Homo sapiens: one gene and its partner. The protein of the gene in region 1 interacts with the protein of each later gene in a biochemical or structural test. Each region holds a gene or a part of one and is shown in the gene's direction. Other genes may lie near its edges. The genes, in order: CAMTA2 and NKX2-5.

The links.
Region 2: the proteins of CAMTA2 (region 1) and NKX2-5 form a complex in vitro, tested with the Homo sapiens proteins (one study listed by BioGRID).

Annotation. Positions count from the first base shown.
Region 1 is NC_000017.11:4,970,055-4,979,040, reverse strand, and holds part of CAMTA2 (calmodulin-binding transcription activator 2), read left to right. Parts: intron 1-410; coding exon 411-537; intron 538-1,848; coding exon 1,849-1,983; intron 1,984-4,359; exon of another isoform or gene 4,360-4,540; coding exon 4,541-4,656; exon of another isoform or gene 4,657-4,681; intron 4,682-5,238; exon of another isoform or gene 5,239-5,271; coding exon 5,272-5,456; intron 5,457-5,787; coding exon 5,788-5,866; intron 5,867-6,049; coding exon 6,050-6,272; intron 6,273-6,504; coding exon 6,505-6,809; intron 6,810-8,504; coding exon 8,505-8,701; intron 8,702-8,890; exon of another isoform or gene 8,891-8,955; coding exon 8,956-8,986. UniProt on the Homo sapiens protein: Transcription activator. May act as tumor suppressor.
Region 2 is NC_000005.10:173,232,207-173,241,831, reverse strand, and holds the start of NKX2-5 (homeobox protein Nkx-2.5), read left to right. Parts: upstream 1-6,625; 5' UTR 6,626-6,748; coding exon 6,749-7,082; intron 7,083-7,691; coding exon of another isoform or gene 7,692-7,786; exon of another isoform or gene 7,787-8,323; intron 8,324-8,330; coding exon of another isoform or gene 8,331-8,335; exon of another isoform or gene 8,336-8,367; coding exon of another isoform or gene 8,368-8,489; exon of another isoform or gene 8,490-8,622; coding exon 8,623-9,263; 3' UTR 9,264-9,625. UniProt on the Homo sapiens protein: Transcription factor required for the development of the heart and the spleen. During heart development, acts as a transcriptional activator of NPPA/ANF in cooperation with GATA4.

The DNA of each region.
Region 1 (8,986 bases):
AAACATCAGGGATGTGATTGCAGACTTTGAGTAGCTGAAAGACTGTCTTCAGCAGTGGAGAAGTTCTGTTTTATGCTGCCTTTGAGAGGAAAAGGAGGAAGTACAGTGGGGGTGAATTAGCCCAAGAACAGAACTTCCTTCTGGTGACAGCTCTGTGGTAGCTTTGGGGGAGGCCCTGAATTCCCAGCTACTGGCAGATTCAGGTAGAGACCAGGCAACCACTTGGCAGGAATGTTGGGGAGAGATAGACTCACTGACCTCACCCCACTGGGTCCTGTCTATCCCTGGACCCCCAGACTCTAGCACAGGACCTGCCATATAGTAGATACCCTGTAAGGGTCTGAATAAATGAATGAGTGAGGGGATGAACGCCCAACTCCAGTCACATGGTCTCTGACTTCTGTCTGCAGGGTGGGGTCAAGGTGCTCATCACAGGTCCTTGGACCGAAGCCGCCGAGCATTACTCCTGTGTCTTTGATCACATCGCAGTGCCAGCCTCACTTGTCCAGCCTGGTGTCTTACGCTGCTACTGTCCCGGTATGAGGATTGGGAACCGTAGGGGGAGGGACTGACATGTGGGCAGTTAGGACAGATCAGGACCTCCAGGCTTCCAGAAAGCACTGGGAACAAATGGGTTGTTTTGAGAGCACAAGGACTTCATCCAGTCCTGAGGTTGAGCCCCAAGCTCTCCCAGCAGGCAGAAGAGCCCAGACTTAGGTGTCAGAAGATCGAGGTTCTGGTCCAAGAAGTCTACTCCTTAGCTAACCAGTGACCTCAGATGAGTCTGATCCTTCCTGAGGTCCTTGGCCTCCTCTCCTGTAAGGTTAGGCATTGACCAAAGGGATTTCTAATGTCTGTCCAGGCTTTCTGGCTTAGAGCCAGAGTCTCCAACTCCAATCCAGGGGGAATGAGAAAGAAGAAATGTGGGTTTCCTCTAACCAGTCTTGGGACTGAAGGACATTGGCTTTTAGAACTGTGCTGTCCAGTATGGTAGCCATTAGCCACATGTGCCTATTAATTAAAGTTAAAGAATACTTAAAATTCACTTCCCCAGTCTCACTGACCATGTTTCAAGTGTTCAGTAGCCACACATGGCTCGTGTTACCCTATTGGATAGTGACGATATAGAACATTCTTGTCACTGCAGAAATGTTCTATTGGACAGCACTGGTCTAGACTTCATTGCCAAGGTTCATCTCTGCCCTTTTGCCACCAGCTTTGCCCTTACCCTACACTCAAAAATCAGCCTTACTAGGGGACCTCAAGGACCACCAAAGTGACAGGTTGGCAGCTTTGCTGTCTACGAGTGTGTTCTCCCCCAGTCTCTACAGCAGCATCCAGCATGTGTGTAAGGAAAGGGGATGAGACCAGAGAATCTGGGGACTGGGAGAAAAAGTCTCAGCACCTGGTCTTAGGATCAGGGCCTGCTGGTTCCATGCTTATGGCCACTGGACACTGTTCATGAGCGGCTAGCTCCCCTTTCCTCCATCTCAGTAACAGGGTCATAACTTCCAGACTCTGATCCGGGGATCAAGAGGATTTTCCAACATCAAATTGTTCATAACTAGTCTCTTGACCCTCAGTTTCCAAACCTTCTTGCTGAATAACAAATATCTTCAACTACAGGGTCTAGAATCCAAGGGATCTCTGGCCCATAGTACGTATTAAGTTCTCAAACAAATGGACTCCCTTCCCAGTTAGTGCCAAGGCCACTGAAGCCAGGGGCCTCTTGGCCCACAGCAGGGCAGTAGGGGAAATAACTATGGAATAATTGTCTGTGGCTGACACAGGTAGCCAGAGAAGGAGCCAGGGAAAGAGAGCCCTTCTCGCTGATCCTACCCTCTCCAGCCCATGAGGTAGGGCTGGTGTCTTTGCAGGTGGCAGGGCGGGAGGGGCCCCTTTCTGCTTCTGTGCTCTTTGAGTATCGAGCCCGCCGATTCCTGTCTCTGCCTAGTACTCAACTTGACTGGCTGTCACTGGACGGTGAGTACCCAGCCCTCTGAACCCAAGTATCCAGCCCACAGCCTTTAAGCATGACATGCTCCTAGACCACTCAGGGTTCAGGTGGCCATCACTGAGCCCCCACTTTACCATTTTTTTTTTTCAATTCCTATTTCATTAGTGATTTCTAAATGTGGCAGCAAACTTCCCTTACCTCCTCTTCCCCATAAATCTTGGGGTCATTTTTATACCAGTTCTTGACCTGCCTTCTCCATCCCAAAGGGTGGAATCTAGACAAGGAAGGCTAAGAGGCAGGGCAGGGACAGGGTCTAGAGCAATATATAGGTGCTATGCACAAGTTTATGTACTTATTTATTATTTATTTTTCTCTTCTTTTTTGAGACGGAGTCTTGCTCTGTCTCCCAGGCTGAACTGCAGTGGCGCGATCTCAGGTCACTGCAACCTCCACCTCCTGGGTTCAAGCAATCCTCCTGCCTCAGCCTCCCAAGTAGCTGGGATTACAGGTGCCTGCCACCAAGCCTGGCTAATTTTTTGTGATTTTAGTAGAGATGAGGTTTCGCCATGTTGGCCAGGCTGGTCTCAAACTCCTGACCTCAAGCAATCCACCCCGCCTTGGTCTACCAAAGTGTTGGGATTACAGGCGTGAGCCACCACACCCGGCTGTACTTATATATTTAAATTTCTATTGTTTTTCCTTTTCTGATATAAAGACGTGTTCATTAACAGAAATTTGGAAATTACACAAAAGCACAAAATAGAAAATAAAAATTTCTGGCTGGGCGCGGTGGCTCGTGCTTCTAATCCCAGCACTTTGGGAGGCCAAGGCGGGTGGATCACCTGAGGTCAGGAGTTTGAGACCAGCCTGGCAAATATGGTGAAACCCTGTCTCCACTAAAAATACAAAAATTAGCCAGGCGTGGTGGTGGGTGCCTGTAGTCCCAGCTACTCAGGAGGCTGAGACAGGAGAATTGCTTGAACCCGAGAGGCGGAAGTTGCAATGAGCCAAGATTGTGCCACTGCACTCCAGCCTGGGCGACAGAGCGAGACTCCGTCTCAAAAAAAAAGAAAAAAATTTCCTATACTACTACTTCTCAGTGATATCCATTGCTAATAACATGGTGTACTAACACAAACATAGAGGCACATACATACGTGTATCTATGTGTGTGTGTATTTATTTATTTAAATCTGGGAGTTTTTGTTCCTGTTACTGGTTCTCTCTCTTGTGGCCTTGAACATTGTTTCTGTCTGCACCTGCTGCTTTCTGCTTTCTCAAGGTTAGCTTTTCTCTATCTCTTCCTCTTGGTGTCTTTGTTGTTGCCTCTTGGCTTCTCTCAGTTCTGCTGCCATCTGTGTTATCTTAGTCTCCCTCTGTCCTTACTTCTCTCTCTCCGGAGCTCTGGTCCTTAGTTTCGCCTCACTCTTGGAGCTGGACCCCACACAAAGCCCGAGTGTGTTGGGTTGCTTGTCTCTGACTTGAGTCTGCCTACCTTGGGATCTGGCCAGGCCTCTCAGTCCTGTTCTGTCTCTGTCCTGCCCTGTGACTGTTCATCACCTTATTTCTCTGTCCCTGTCTAATCTACGTTTTACCGTCTCTCCTATGAGTCTCTTCCATCCCTCTTCTTTCCATTTCTTCTTGAACCAATATCTTAACTTGCCTGTCTTTTATCGTCCTTTCTTACTGCTTGTTTGGCACTTTTCCCCCAGCCCTCCTTTGTCCTTTCTCTCCTCTCCTTCACTTTATCTTTTTTGCTCTCTCTCCTCCCTTTGTTTTCCTTGGGTTTCTGTTCATCATTCTCTGTCCTCCTATCACCTGTGTACCTTCATCCCCTTCTATCCTGGCATCTCAGAACATCTCCAACCTTCACCGTTTGTGTCTGTTTTCCTACAGCTCTGATCCCCTCCTGCCTCCCCTTCTTGTCCTTGTTTGATCTCAGGAGGGGACAGATATAGCTTGGGGGGATATGTGTGTACGTGCGTATTTGTATATGGGGCGGGGAGGAGGAGGAGGAGAAATGGACATGGCTATATGGCTATCCATCTCTGTCACCTTCCGTCCCCCACCATCGTCTTTGTGGACAGCTGCGGGGGGCTGGGAGGAAGGGGAGGTACTTTTCAAATCACAGTCCCTGAGCTTTTTGGGGCAGTGGTTATTAAAAGGGAGGGACCCTGGAATCCTTCACCTTCACCATGGGGGACAAAGGTAGTGTCTGCTGCAAAAATTGACAGAACATTTTGCCTAGGAAAAGGCTGGGGGGAAGAGTGTGTACGGGTGGGATTTGGGACATCTGGAGGCTGGATGACCATTTGGGAATCCTACTACCTCTGTACCTTGAAGGAAACAGTTTTGGTTCCAGATCTGGGTTCTAGATCAGTGGGTAGTATTAACAGCCCTAGTTTAAGGACTGAGTCCTGGTGGGCTTTATTTAGGTGAAGGGGTAAAGGAGCTGTTGTTTTGGGGAAGATAAAAGAATATGGTTCTGTGTCCTCATCCCCAGATCTTGGGACAGGTCTACTTTTGGTGTTCAGGGCATCACCTAGACTGCCCACTCAGCCTCCCATACCCGTTCCCCCTCAGACAACCAGTTCCGGATGTCCATACTAGAGCGACTGGAGCAGATGGAGAAGCGGATGGCAGAGATCGCAGCAGCTGGGCAGGTGCCTTGCCAGGGTCCTGATGCTCCTCCAGTTCAGGTACTTCTGTGAGGAGGGAGGTGGTCTACGGTGGGGAGCAGGGGGAGGACACAGCTAAAGAAAACATCTAGTGCCCATGACTCTCCTCCCTCTCCTGTCCCCAGCCTCCTCAGCCTGTCTTCCCTCTCCCTGACGTCACCCTGTTCCCATCCCCACCTTGTGGCAAGAGTGGCTATTCTGGGCACCCTCTTGGCATGACGGGCTTCAGACTATTTCTGGTCTGAAGAAGGGTGGAGGTGAAGGAGAGGGCGGGGGAGGGGTCAGGAGCACTGGGGCTCAGATCTCTGTGGGTCCCAAGTTTCTGAAAGAAGAGGGCTAAGGCTCAGAGAAGGCTCTGGCTTCTGAGGGGGAGAAGCCATGTGTGAACATGGCACTAATCTGAGCTGATGGGAAGGCACATGGGCAAGATTGTGTGAGGTCTGGCTGCTGGAGGAAGTGGCTGTGGGAGCAAGAGACACAGGCCACAGAGGAACTTCAACTGATGGGATCCTAGAGTGGGACATGTGGGGAGGGGGCAAAATTAGAAGCTGGGAGGACAGATGTGAGGTGGCCAAGGCCACCTCAAGCCAGGGGAGTAGATACCTGGGTCTCTGCCTAAGAGTGTGTATATCGCAGGATGAAGGCCAGGGGCCTGGGTTCGAAGCACGGGTAGTGGTCTTGGTAGAAAGCATGATCCCACGCTCCACCTGGAAGGGTCCTGAACGTCTGGCCCATGGAAGCCCCTTCCGGGGCATGAGCCTTCTGCACCTGGCTGCTGCCCAGGGCTATGCCCGCCTCATCGAGACCCTGAGCCAGTGGCGGTGAGCAAGGGCAGCTGGGTGAGGGCTGGGCAGCCTCTGGGACAGAAGTGTCAGGGGACTGAAGAGGAATTGGAGGACCTGGGGCCCTACCAAGAGGGAGTTGGGGTCATTGTGGGAAGGGAGGGGGTTGGGAGAGGACTTATATTTTGGGGAACTTTCATATCCTGACTTACAACACTTTGACTTCTTGACCTCCTTAAGCTAGTGTCCTTGACTGCCTCTTCCCACCGGCCCTGTACAGCTTGCCTCCTAGTGCCTTTACTTCTGATGTTCCTGCTTTGCCCACTTTTTCCCTCATTGGGCTCTGCTGTCTCTCTCCCAAACCCTCCAGGAGTGTGGAGACTGGAAGCTTGGACTTAGAGCAGGAGGTTGACCCGCTCAACGTGGATCATTTCTCTTGCACCCCTCTGGTGAGGATGACGGATTCCTGAGCGCATATGGGGCAGGGAGCAATGGGAACAGCCCTTGAAAAGGAAGATCCTGAGGAATGCAGGGAGTGGGGTGGGCTGGGGCCTGAAGACCTGACTACCTGGAGGAAGAGCCCCTGGCCTCACCTCCACCTCCGTCTCCGCCTGTCCCGCCCCCTTCCTCAGATGTGGGCTTGTGCCCTGGGACACCTGGAAGCTGCTGTGCTCCTTTTCCGTTGGAACCGACAGGCACTGAGCATTCCCGACTCTCTGGGCCGTCTGCCATTGTCTGTGGCTCATTCCCGGGGTCATGTGCGCCTTGCCCGCTGCCTTGAGGAACTACAGAGACAGGAGCCTTCGGTGGAGCCCCCATTTGCCCTATCGCCACCCTCCTCCAGCCCAGACACTGGTGAGGGTGGCCCTAATCTTTTGGAGAGAGGGATGTAGGTAGGAGGATAGGCCAGGACAAAGCCAAAGGGTGTGGGAAACGAGTAAGAGAGGAGACAAACCACAGAGGCAGGGATGGGAGATAACAGAAGCAAGAACAGACGGGGACCGAGAACAGGATGGGGAAGGCAGGAGACTTGAGCGAGGGATGGCCGTGGCTCCGGCTGCCCTCACTCTCTTCCCTCCCCACACAGGTCTGAGCAGCGTCTCCTCGCCCTCGGAGCTGTCGGATGGCACCTTTTCCGTCACGTCAGCCTATTCTAGTGCCCCAGATGGCAGTCCCCCCCCTGCACCTCTGCCAGCCTCTGAGATGACTATGGAGGACATGGCCCCAGGCCAGCTTTCCTCTGGTGTCCCAGAAGCCCCCCTACTCCTCATGGACTATGAGGCTACCAACTCCAAGGGGCCCCTCTCCTCCCTTCCTGCCCTCCCACCAGCTTCAGATGATGGGGCTGCTCCAGAGGACGCTGACAGCCCACAGGCTGTGGATGTGATCCCGGTACTGCTTATATTGATGGAGTTATGGGGGCTAGAAGTGGAGTAGGAAGGGTGAGGCCGACTTCCATGAAGCAGAATCAAAGTCTGGCTTCAGTTTAGGAAGGGCCTATTTACTTCATTTTGGGACAGGCAAGGTAGCCTTTTGCTTAGCTCCTTTTAGACCATGTGACTTGGAAGTCATGAGGCAGCGGAGGTTGAAAATTCTGGCTGGTCCCACAATACAGATGTTGGAAAAAAAAAATTTGGCCGGGCTTGGTGGCTTACGCCTGTAATCCCAGCACTTTGGGTGGCCAGGGCGGGTGGATCACTTCAGGCCAGGAGTTTGAGACCAGCCTGGGCAACATGGCGAAACCCCCTCTCTACAAGAAATACAAAAATTAACTGGGCACTGTGGTATGTGCCTGTAATCCCAGCTGTTTGAGAGGCTGAGACACAAGAATCACTTGAACCCAGGAGGCACAGGCTGCAGTGAGCCGAGACTGCACCACTGCACTCCAGCCTGGGTGACAGACTGAGACTGTCTCAAAAAAAAAAAAAAAAAGACAAAATAGTAAGATTTAAAATATAAAAAGCATTAAAAAATATTCTGGCTGGGTGCGGTGGCTCACCCCTGTAATCCCATCACTTTCAGAGAACGAGGTGGGAGGATCACTTGAGAACAGGGGCTTGAGACCAGTCTGGCCAACATAACAAGACCCCATCTCTACACAAAATAATTTTTTAAAAATAGGCATGGTGGCACACACCTGTAGTTGTAGCTACTTGGGAGGCTGAGGTAGGAGAACCCCTTGAGCCCAGGAATATGAGGTTGCAGTGAGCTGACTGTGCCATTGCATTCCAGCCTGGACAAGAGACCCTGTCTCTATAACAAAAATTCTAGGGAATATCTTCAGTTAGAGCTGGTTTGTAGGAGTTAACCGTTGATCTATGTAGGGACAAGGTTCTAGGAGAACCAAGATGACGGAGGGCAGCTGGGAGTTGTGTGGAGAGGTAAGGCTGGCAAGATGAGGGTATTTGGCAGTGATCTGATGCAGGAAGGAGGCTTGCACATGATAAAGCTAAGAAAGTCTTGTGGAATGAAAGTGAATCTTCAAGTATAGCCTTGTACTTCTCTGATAGAGACTGGGGACATACCTGCTTTAGAGAGACTAATGGAGTAAGTGGGTGGCACTTTAAGTACAAAAAACTTAGGGAACTCCACAAGTAGGTTGTGTTGAGTGTGTCCAGCAGGAAGTGCTGGAGTATAGGCTTCAGGGCTGGAGCAAAGGCCAGACTGGAGCCATTCATCCGGGTAGTAGTTGGCAAGTGTTGGAATGGTTCTTGGAGAGTTGAAAGGGAGCTGGGGGTGGGCACAGCCAAGCCTATGGGGAGCATGTGCTGGTCAGCTGGCATGGGGCAGGCCCAGGTAGGACAGTGGATGGTTGGCCTGAAAGGGTGTCAAGTCCTCCATTTGTTCAGCTTTGAATCCCCACTTGGAGTATCTCCTTTTTATCCTATATTCTCCATAGCATCTCAGCACAGAGGGACCCCCAAGTGGGAGCCCCATCAGTATAAATGAATGAGTCTGGAACAGTGGCCCAGAAAGACAGGGTTAGCAGCACCTGGCAGGGAGAGAAGGAACAAGATAGGAATGGACTGAGGTTACAGCTGGCAGCTGGGGCCCCTAAGGACTCACTCAGCTTCTCCCTTCTTCCAGGTGGACATGATCTCACTAGCCAAGCAGATCATCGAAGCCACACCGGAGCGGATTAAACGAGAGGACTTCGTGGGGCTGCCCGAGGCTGGAGCCTCAATGCGGGAGCGGACAGGGGCTGTGGGGCTCAGTGAGACCATGTCCTGGCTGGCCAGCTACCTGGAGAATGTGGACCATTTCCCCAGCTCAACCCCTCCCAGGTGACTAGCTCAGGACAAAGCCTCCAGATTCTTCAAAGGAAGATGGGAGGAAGGGAGAAAGCTGGCTTTCCCACAGCCAAAGCTCCATTCTGGCTGAGGCCCCAGGGCCTTGGAGAAGCGAACTGAACTGGCTGATGAACTCTGAAGTCACTCTCCAGACTCAGTTGCTGGTGGTTTTCCTTCGTAGCCATCCATAGGTGGCAGAGGAGGGACTTCAGATGCTTCATGACACCCTCTTTCCCTACCGCCTACAGCGAACTGCCCTTTGAGCGAGGTCGCCTGGCT
Region 2 (9,625 bases), on another chromosome or scaffold:
TTTGCTATTTAAAGTATCTCAAAACATATCCATAAGAATACATATGAATGGAACTAATTCTTTCTCATGGCATATGGTATTCTGTTCTATTGGTACAACATAATTTTTTAACCAGTCCTCAGGTATATATACACTGGTTTTTTTAACATGTTTTGATTCTTAAAAAAATTAAAAACGGTGATGAAAATACTTTTCTTTGCATATATGTATATACCTATAGAATGGAATCCTAGAAATGAAAATATTTGTTCAAAGAGCTTATTCATTTTTAATTTTGGCAGTACCACATTGCTCCAAAGAGGTTTACCAGTTTACAATGTAGAAGCATGACGAGGCAACTATTACACTTTTTGATCTTCGTCAGTCTGATAAGTAAAAACATTTGCCTCTCTGTGTTTCAATTTGCATTTCTTTATTTCTTTTTATTTTTTCCAGCAAGGCTCTGATACTCTTGGTCATTTTTCAAATATTTTTGCTGGATCATTTTCTTATTGATTTACAGGTATTCTTTCCAAATTGTGGAAATCAGTACTTTGTCATGTATTTCTAGCATTTTTCCTGAGTACAGTTTTCTGTTGGATTCTATTAATGGTATTTTTGCTGTGCACAGATTTATTTTTATGCAATCAGGTTTATATAATTCATCTTTTATAGTTTCTAGGTCTTTTGTTCTCTTAATCCCCCTCTCAAATATAAAAGCACTCCAAAATTATTATTTTAATTATCTGTAGCACTTTTGTGTTTCATTTTTAACGTCCAAATGTTTGATCTATCTGAAATTGAATGTATTTGGTATAAGAAAAATCCATCACATTTTCCTTACGTTAACATCATTTTATTTTGAAAGCATATTGTCATATAGACCATCCCTCCCCCCACCCCAAATAGCATAATATTGCAATTGGCGGGGACTTCTCATCTTAACCAGTTTTACTTTGTTGGTTAGACAACTACCCACGTGCCTGTCTACCTCTGCCCACTGTCCAGGTGAGTTCAGGTAACAACCTGGGATGTCTCCCAGGATAGTGTCGCTGGAAAGGAACGCTGTGTACACCTCATACCACCAAGGAGACAGACACAAAACTGGGGACCAGACAGGAAAAGAGACATGCTCAAGATGAGCCAACTGCTGAAAAGGCAGGACCACACCCACCGCGGGCTCAGAGGCCAGCGCTCTTTCTGACACACGCCTGCCTTTTTCAGGGTCTGTGCATCTTGGGCTGTGCAACCCCAGCACCTGGTACATAGTGGGCACCCACTCAATGTAGGTGAAGGGATGGAGAAAATCAGGCCAAGAATCCAACAGTGACCAAGCTGTGGAGTCACTTGGCAGCTGGGTGAAAGCTACGGTCCACTCTTTTAGCCTCTCCCCTCACAGCCACACACACACACACACACACACACATACGCACAGTATCCACTAGCCATGTGGATCTGCTCTTTCCTTCTGTGGGCTCTAGGCCCTTCCTATGGCTGAGCAAGTTTCCATGGACAGCTCTTAAAGCAGCTTGGAGACTTTCTGTCTGTCCTAGCTGGCTAGCAGGGGGCTGGGGAGGGGTGGGGGGTGAGGGAAGGAAGCCAAAACCCAGCTAGGCAATAGAGAGTTAGTATTTCCAGTGCTCTGCTCAGACAGCCCAGAAAGCAGGATTGACTACATAGTTTGTGGGCTCAGCGCAAAATAGAAATGTGGAGACTCTGCTTAAAAACTTATGAAGAGTTTTAAGACAGCAACAGCGGAACATTAAACCAAGCTCAGGCCCTGTGAGACTGCACAGATGCCATGCCCATGAAGGATAGGGTTAATTATGGAGGAGGGGGAAGGGCCCTTTCAAGGACTCTAAAGCTTCAGACTGTAAGGTAGAAGTGGGCTGGAGGGGTATTCATAATAGACAAAATGTGGAAATAACCCAAATGTTTACCAAGTGATGAATGGACGAAGTGTGGCATAGACATACAATGGAATATTGTTCAGCCATTAAAAGGAACAAGATGCTGATACGTGCTACAGCATGGACGAACTTTGAAAACATTATGTTAAGTGAACGCTGCGAGACACAAACAGCCACATATTGTATGATTCCATTTGTATGAAATGTCCAGAACAGGCAAATCTATAGGGGCAGAAAATAGATTAGCAGTTGCCTAGGGCTGGGAAGGTAGGAGAGGGGATTGGAGTTGATGGCTAAAGACCACAAGTTTGTTTTTGGGGTGATAAAAATGTTCTAAAATTGTGGTGTTGGTTTCACAACTCTGTGGACATACTAAAAATCACTGAACTGTATACTTTAAATGGGTGGATTGTATGGTATGCGAATTATATCTCGATAAAGCTGTTATCAAAATAGGAGAGGGAAGGGAGAAGGGAAAGGAAAAGTGGGAGAGCGAGGGGAGGGGAAGGCGGAAGTGAAATGAACGCATGTTAAATTCCTCTCTCCCCCTCTCTTTCTCAAATGAACTTTATGCAGGAAATCTCCCTTGTCTATGAAGGTTGGGGAGACCTGGCATCTCAAATCCAACAGCCTGGTCCTCTCCCCTGGCTGCGGGGTGGGGGGTGATGGTGGGGGTCTTGCTCTTCCTCCAGTTGGTACGGTCTTGGGCGCAGCGACGTGTAATAAAAGAAAACAGTCTCAGCTGTGCAGTCAGCTGTGTGTTCGAATCCTAACACCCTGACACTGTCCTTTCCCATCTGTGTGACCCTGAGCAACTTACTCCACGTCTCTGAACCTCATTCTCCTCAGGCCTGCAGTCGGAATAAGAGGATCCGTGACGAGATCCGTGAGAGCGCCTGGCACACCCCGTGGGCACTGAACAAGCGTGGAAATGAGAAGGATTTGGTGCCAGCTGAGCCACCTGAATGAGGCGAGTCCCGAGGCAGGAAAAATCCGGTGCCGCGGAGGCCGCCTGGACTCTTCCGGAGCCAAGGGCGAGGTCGGCGGCCCTCAGAGTCGCCCCCCGCCCCCAACTCCCGGCCAGGAAGGAAGCCGGGCGGCGGAGGGGCCCAGCGCGGAGGCGGAGGCGGAGGCGGAGGCGGAGGCCGAGGCCGGGAGTCCGGCGCGCAGCCGGAGCTGCTCATCCATCAGCCGGACGAAGAGCAGAGTCGCGCTCTCGGCCCTCTGTTTGCTTTCTCGCCAATTATTGCAGCGCCGCAGCCCCTTTGTTGATACAGTAGTCCGAAAAAGTGCTAATGTTCATTTATCAGGGGGCCAGCCGGGGACTCCCACGAGTTGCGATTCTTCCCAAAATATAAACATGGGGCGAGCGTCCCAGACAGAAACTCCCATCTGTTTCCCCCGCGCGGGCCGAGAGCGAGGCGTTGTTGAAGATAAAGCCGCGGATAACGCCGCCTGTCTCCAATGGACGTCTCCCCAGCGCATTAATGACATTCCCGGTGATAGTTCCAGCTTATCTTTCAATTAATCATATATACCTTTTGCGACCAGCCCTGCTGATTGCACGAAAGGGGGGCCGGCTCCGGCTGCGCCGATCGCTTTTCAATTAATAATAATTTATTCACGGAGAATGCGCTCGAGCCACCCTGGAATTTGGATTATCTTAAAGCACCAACTCTTTAAAAGTCAAGGAAATACACAGATAGATTTTCGATCTCTTCTCTCTCCTTTTGTCTCTCTCTGCCTTTCTCTAGGCTGAAGGCTGTTTGTTTGTCCTGCTAGTTTGGTCAAAGTGCGGCGCAGAGAGGCGGCCAGGTTGGGTCAGCGGCCCTTGGGAAAAAAAGATGTGTCCCTGTTGGGGGCCAGAGAATCAAGTTTCCTCCCACCCAACCCCCAACTATTGCAATTTCTATTTAGATCTATTTAGAGGGATTTTTTTTTAACTCACTCGGAAACAGTGAGGACTGGAAAGAAAAGCTGCAAATGGCTCTCGGACTTTCCTCTAAGGAGACCAGCATGGGTCGCCCCAATTTCTATTTTGCACGTATTTGTCCGTTTTTGCCCCATCTCCTCTCTCCTGCAACACCAAGACCTTTTTGGAAGCCAAGAGAAATCATTACCCGATTCACAAAGAGCATAGAGAGTGTAACAGTCACTGATCTTGTTCAAATAGGGAGAGTTTTTTTTCCTTCCCTTTTTGTAACACCTGACCCACAGGACTGACAGTTCTAGGAAGCCCCCTTACCCGAAAATAGGAAATAAATCCTTGCCACCTTGATTTGCAAGGGCAATGCTAATTTTTTTCTTTCTCCAGAGCTCTCAAAAAAAAAAAAAAAAAAACCTTACTAAAAACAGGGATCCCGGATGTAGCCTCGATGTCCCCCATTAAACGGTAATATTTCAGGCGTCCGCTCACACTAATCTTTCAAACTGTCATCGCGAGCCGCCTGGCCAGCAGATTCACTTAACAGCGCTCCCAGGACCCTCGTTCCGAGCTCTTTTCAGCGAGACATTTAATTGAATCGGATGTGGCTCGTTTGCCAGACGTCACCGCCTCGGCGATAGGCATCCTCTCCAACGACACCCCCCCCCGCCCGCGCTCGAAAACAATCTTCAAAGGCAAGGCGGGCCCCCAAGCTAGGTTAATTTACAGCCATAACGGTAACGTGGCCAAAAGTCCAGGCGAGGAAGGGCCGCAAGGCCGCTGACATGCAGCTCCGTCCAAGGAGAATTTGGGTTGGGAGGTGAAGAGGTGGGGGGACGAGGTTTCCTGGGCCTTGAACGCCCCACATTTAAGAAAAGGCATCCTCCACAGACTAGACTAACAATTCCAGACCCCCAGTAGTCCCTGGCTCAGAAACTCGAGGCGTGATTTCGGCGTGGCAGCCCAGGCCTGTTACTGACGGCTGGCGCCTAGAAGCCGGGGTCAGGGCGTTGCGCGCCTCCTGGGCTGCCCTGCGGGGCTCACCTCTCTCCCCAGCATGGAGGCCCCAGGTCCTGGGAGTGTGGCTTTGATGAGGGACAGGAAAAGTCCCAACATCAGGCCAATGCTTGACTTCACTTGCGTCGGCGTCTCAGACGGCACACTGTCGGGTTTGAGCACCCAAGATGTACGTTCTGGACAGACACTATTTTGTCCCCATACATGGAGCGTTTCCTCCGCACCTTGGGCGCGCCTGCGGGAGCTGTGTCTTTAGGTAGTTTTTGGCCCTGCGCCGCCTTTATTCTACTCCAAGCGCCTCTTGCCAACCCGCACTCCGCAAAGAGCCAAGCCCTCCACATCCCCATTCTCAGCAAGTCCACGCGTCCCGCCCAGCTTCCCGCCCGCGGTTCCCTGTACCAGCTAGGGCCGTGAGAAGCCAACGCTTTTCCACTGACAAATCCTGTCATCCCCAGCTCTAGAAGGCGTCCTTAACCTGGGCCCGCTCTGCCTGCCCGGACTCCTGAATTGTAAGCAAAATAAAACTCCTCTCTGCAGTGTTCTGGGGAATGGAGAAGACCCCAAGCTTTCATCAGACCTCCCAAGGAGTGCGGGGACCCAGAGAAATGAGGCCACCCGGGCAGGATCTGGCCATGTAGCTGGCGCTCCTGAAACTCTGGCAGATTTGTCTGACTTCTGTGCCCTACTCTACTGACCCTGGGCTAAAAATGATCATGATCACCCCACTTGCCCTGCCCTTCCCCCACGCGCCTGACCGAGCCGCAGGGGTGCCCCACTGGAAGTCCGGCCCAGAGGCCTCAGAGAAATCCTGGCCTAGCTGGGCTCAGAGGAGCCCCGCCTCCCTGAGAGCTAAACCTGGGCTAGGACCCTGAAACCTCGAGGTTGGCAGAAGCCTGAGGGCCTTGCTGCCAGGCAGGGAGGGCACGGGAAGGAGGGAGGTGGGATCGATGGCCTCCAAACAGGGGAAACAAGGTGGCTGGTAGCTGGGGCACTCCACAAGACAGGTGTCTCCTGGGAAGCTGAGCTTACCAGCTGGGATTCCTGATTTATTTCATTATTAAGGGGAGAGGCATTTCCCTGGGAGGGTACTGGCAGTGACTGATGCCCCCTGGAGTTGTGCTGTGCATAACACTACTGTAGGAGGCAGCAACTCCTACCCCACCTGGCCATCACTCACCTTGCCCTTACTTTCGTTGACTCGCCCAGAAGCACCCAGAGCCTGCGGCATGACTGACCCTGTAGGCCAAGCCAAACCAAACCCCCGAATTGTCCAGAATCTCGCCCTGCTGCTATCCCCAAAGCCAGCCCTGTCCTCCAGGCTTCTCTTCCTATTCAGACTCTCCCTCATCCCACCACCTTCAGTAATAAAGCCTTCCTCAAATCACTCTCCTCCCCACCGCTTCCCACCCCATCCTTCTCTCTCCCATGCTGGTTTGGGTGCTGAGGAATATTTCTTCAAACCCACACCCATCCAGCCCTGCCCAGAGGCCTGACTCTGCATGCCTCTGGTAGGCTTTTCAGGCTCACATTAGGGAGCAAACGCAGGCTGCAGGAGCAAAAGGAGACCCTTCCAAATGCGTCGTGGCCCCTTTAAAAAAGCTGGGCAGGGCTTTTTTTTTTTTTTTTTTTTTTTTTTTTTTTTTTTTTTTTTGCCGTATGACTATATTAGGTGACACGAAACTGCTCATCGCTCCTGTCATCGAGGCCCCTGGCCCAATGGCAGGCTGAGTCCCCCTCCTCTGGCCTGGTCCCGCCTCTCCTGCCCCTTGTGCTCAGCGCTACCTGCTGCCCGGACACATCCAGAGCTGGCCGACGGGTGCGCGGGCGGGCGGCGGCACCATGCAGGGAAGCTGCCAGGGGCCGTGGGCAGCGCCGCTTTCTGCCGCCCACCTGGCGCTGTGAGACTGGCGCTGCCACCATGTTCCCCAGCCCTGCTCTCACGCCCACGCCCTTCTCAGTCAAAGACATCCTAAACCTGGAACAGCAGCAGCGCAGCCTGGCTGCCGCCGGAGAGCTCTCTGCCCGCCTGGAGGCGACCCTGGCGCCCTCCTCCTGCATGCTGGCCGCCTTCAAGCCAGAGGCCTACGCTGGGCCCGAGGCGGCTGCGCCGGGCCTCCCAGAGCTGCGCGCAGAGCTGGGCCGCGCGCCTTCACCGGCCAAGTGTGCGTCTGCCTTTCCCGCCGCCCCCGCCTTCTATCCACGTGCCTACAGCGACCCCGACCCAGCCAAGGACCCTAGAGCCGAAAAGAAAGGTGAGGAGGAAACACAGGCCCCCTTCTCCCCTCCTGGGTCGCTTTCGTCCCCAAGAAACTCAGGGCCAGGAGGAGGAGACACGCGCCCTTGGGCCGAGGGCTGGGCTGCGGCGGGGGGTTCAGAATGTAAGATGCCTGGTGTTGTCGCCAGGCTCCCGCGCCCCGCGTCCAATCGGAGGTTCAGAGGAAATGCCGGATTGAAAGGATCAGAAGCAAGAGACCAAAAAACGTTTCCCCCCGGCCTAACAAAGCCCCGGGCGGCTTCGGCTCTGCTCCTGGGTCTGGTAGGAAGTTGAGAAATCGGTTTATGGTAGACAGAACAGAGAGACAAGCAGATAATCTCTGTTTTTAAATCTCCTTTGGATTTACGAATCTTTTTAAAGATCTGATGAGAACCGCTAAACAGAAATTGAAATGTTGCTCACCAGACAGCTTTTGCGTACAATCGGAGGAGGGTCCTGGACCTTCTTTCTGCAGCCCACCCACGACCCGGGTTTCTGGTGCCTTTCTTTCTTTGCGCCAGGAAAGTGGAGTCTGGGATCGAGGGCCTTGATTTTAAAATGGGATACTGCGGACCCTCAGGAATCTGACTTCACTTTATTTTTTCAGCACAACTTGCCGGCGCGGCCAGGGCGGAGAGGTTCCCTCGTGGAAAAGTTAGGAAATGCTGCGCTACCGCGGGCACAAGGGAGTGGACGAGATGAGTGCGGGATCATCCCGCAGGCCATCCCAGGATCGGGGAGGGAGGCCGGCCCCGCTGCAGAAAGGGGCCTTCTGGGAGACCCCCCAGCCCAAGGCAGGAGCCCGGGCGATTCCCGGGAGGCCGCAGGCGCTGGGCGAAGCGCTGGGCGAAGGGCCGCTGCCAGCCGGGAGAGAATTCATAGGTTTGTTGAGGAGCAGAGGCCTGGGAACAAATTCGGGCGGGCACGGCGGCTAGAACTGATCGCTACCAATTCGAGGAAGCCAGCAAGGCAGGTTCCGAGGCCGCCTGCCCACCCGCAGCTTCTTGGACACTGCGCAAACCCTGCTGCGGCCAGGCTGGAGCCTCCGATCACCAAACCAACACTCCCTGGCCTTCTGTTTCTTGATTCCTTAATTTTGAGATAAGACCGTCCCTAGCAGTGAGGCCTCGGCCTCTGTTCATTTAACTTCTCAAACCAAACTAGCCCTAATTCAGTTCACCCCAGAGCATCACCTGGTTTTATTTTTATTTTTTTATTTTTTTATTTATTTTTTTTTTTTTTGCAGCCTGAAATTTTAAGTCACCGTCTGTCTCCCTCACCAGGGTGTGAACTGCCCCGAGGGCAGAGACCTCCCGTTTTGTTCTCCAGCGCCTTGAGCCAGCCTGACTTTCTACAAATGCTGAGTGAGACGTGTCGGTGGCTCCCAGTGCACTTGGCAGAGTGAGCCGCAGCCAGCTGGGCGCTCCAGGCAGGACACAGTGGCCTCCACGAGGATCCCTTACCATTACTGTGCGGCCGCGCTCCGTAGGTCAAGCCGCTCTTACCAAGCGTCTCTCTGCCTCTCTGTTCCCCCTCAGAGCTGTGCGCGCTGCAGAAGGCGGTGGAGCTGGAGAAGACAGAGGCGGACAACGCGGAGCGGCCCCGGGCGCGACGGCGGAGGAAGCCGCGCGTGCTCTTCTCGCAGGCGCAGGTCTATGAGCTGGAGCGGCGCTTCAAGCAGCAGCGGTACCTGTCGGCCCCCGAACGCGACCAGCTGGCCAGCGTGCTGAAACTCACGTCCACGCAGGTCAAGATCTGGTTCCAGAACCGGCGCTACAAGTGCAAGCGGCAGCGGCAGGACCAGACTCTGGAGCTGGTGGGGCTGCCCCCGCCGCCGCCGCCGCCTGCCCGCAGGATCGCGGTGCCAGTGCTGGTGCGCGATGGCAAGCCATGCCTAGGGGACTCGGCGCCCTACGCGCCTGCCTACGGCGTGGGCCTCAATCCCTACGGTTATAACGCCTACCCCGCCTATCCGGGTTACGGCGGCGCGGCCTGCAGCCCTGGCTACAGCTGCACTGCCGCTTACCCCGCCGGGCCTTCCCCAGCGCAGCCGGCCACTGCCGCCGCCAACAACAACTTCGTGAACTTCGGCGTCGGGGACTTGAATGCGGTTCAGAGCCCCGGGATTCCGCAGAGCAACTCGGGAGTGTCCACGCTGCATGGTATCCGAGCCTGGTAGGGAAGGGACCCGCGTGGCGCGACCCTGACCGATCCCACCTCAACAGCTCCCTGACTCTCGGGGGGAGAAGGGGCTCCCAACATGACCCTGAGTCCCCTGGATTTTGCATTCACTCCTGCGGAGACCTAGGAACTTTTTCTGTCCCACGCGCGTTTGTTCTTGCGCACGGGAGAGTTTGTGGCGGCGATTATGCAGCGTGCAATGAGTGATCCTGCAGCCTGGTGTCTTAGCTGTCCCCCCAGGAGTGCCCTCCGAGAGTCCATGGGCACCCCCGGTTGGAACTGGGACTGAGCTCGGGCACGCAGGGCCTGAGATCTGGCCGCCCATTCCGCGAGCCAGGGCCGGGCGCCCGGGCCTTTGCT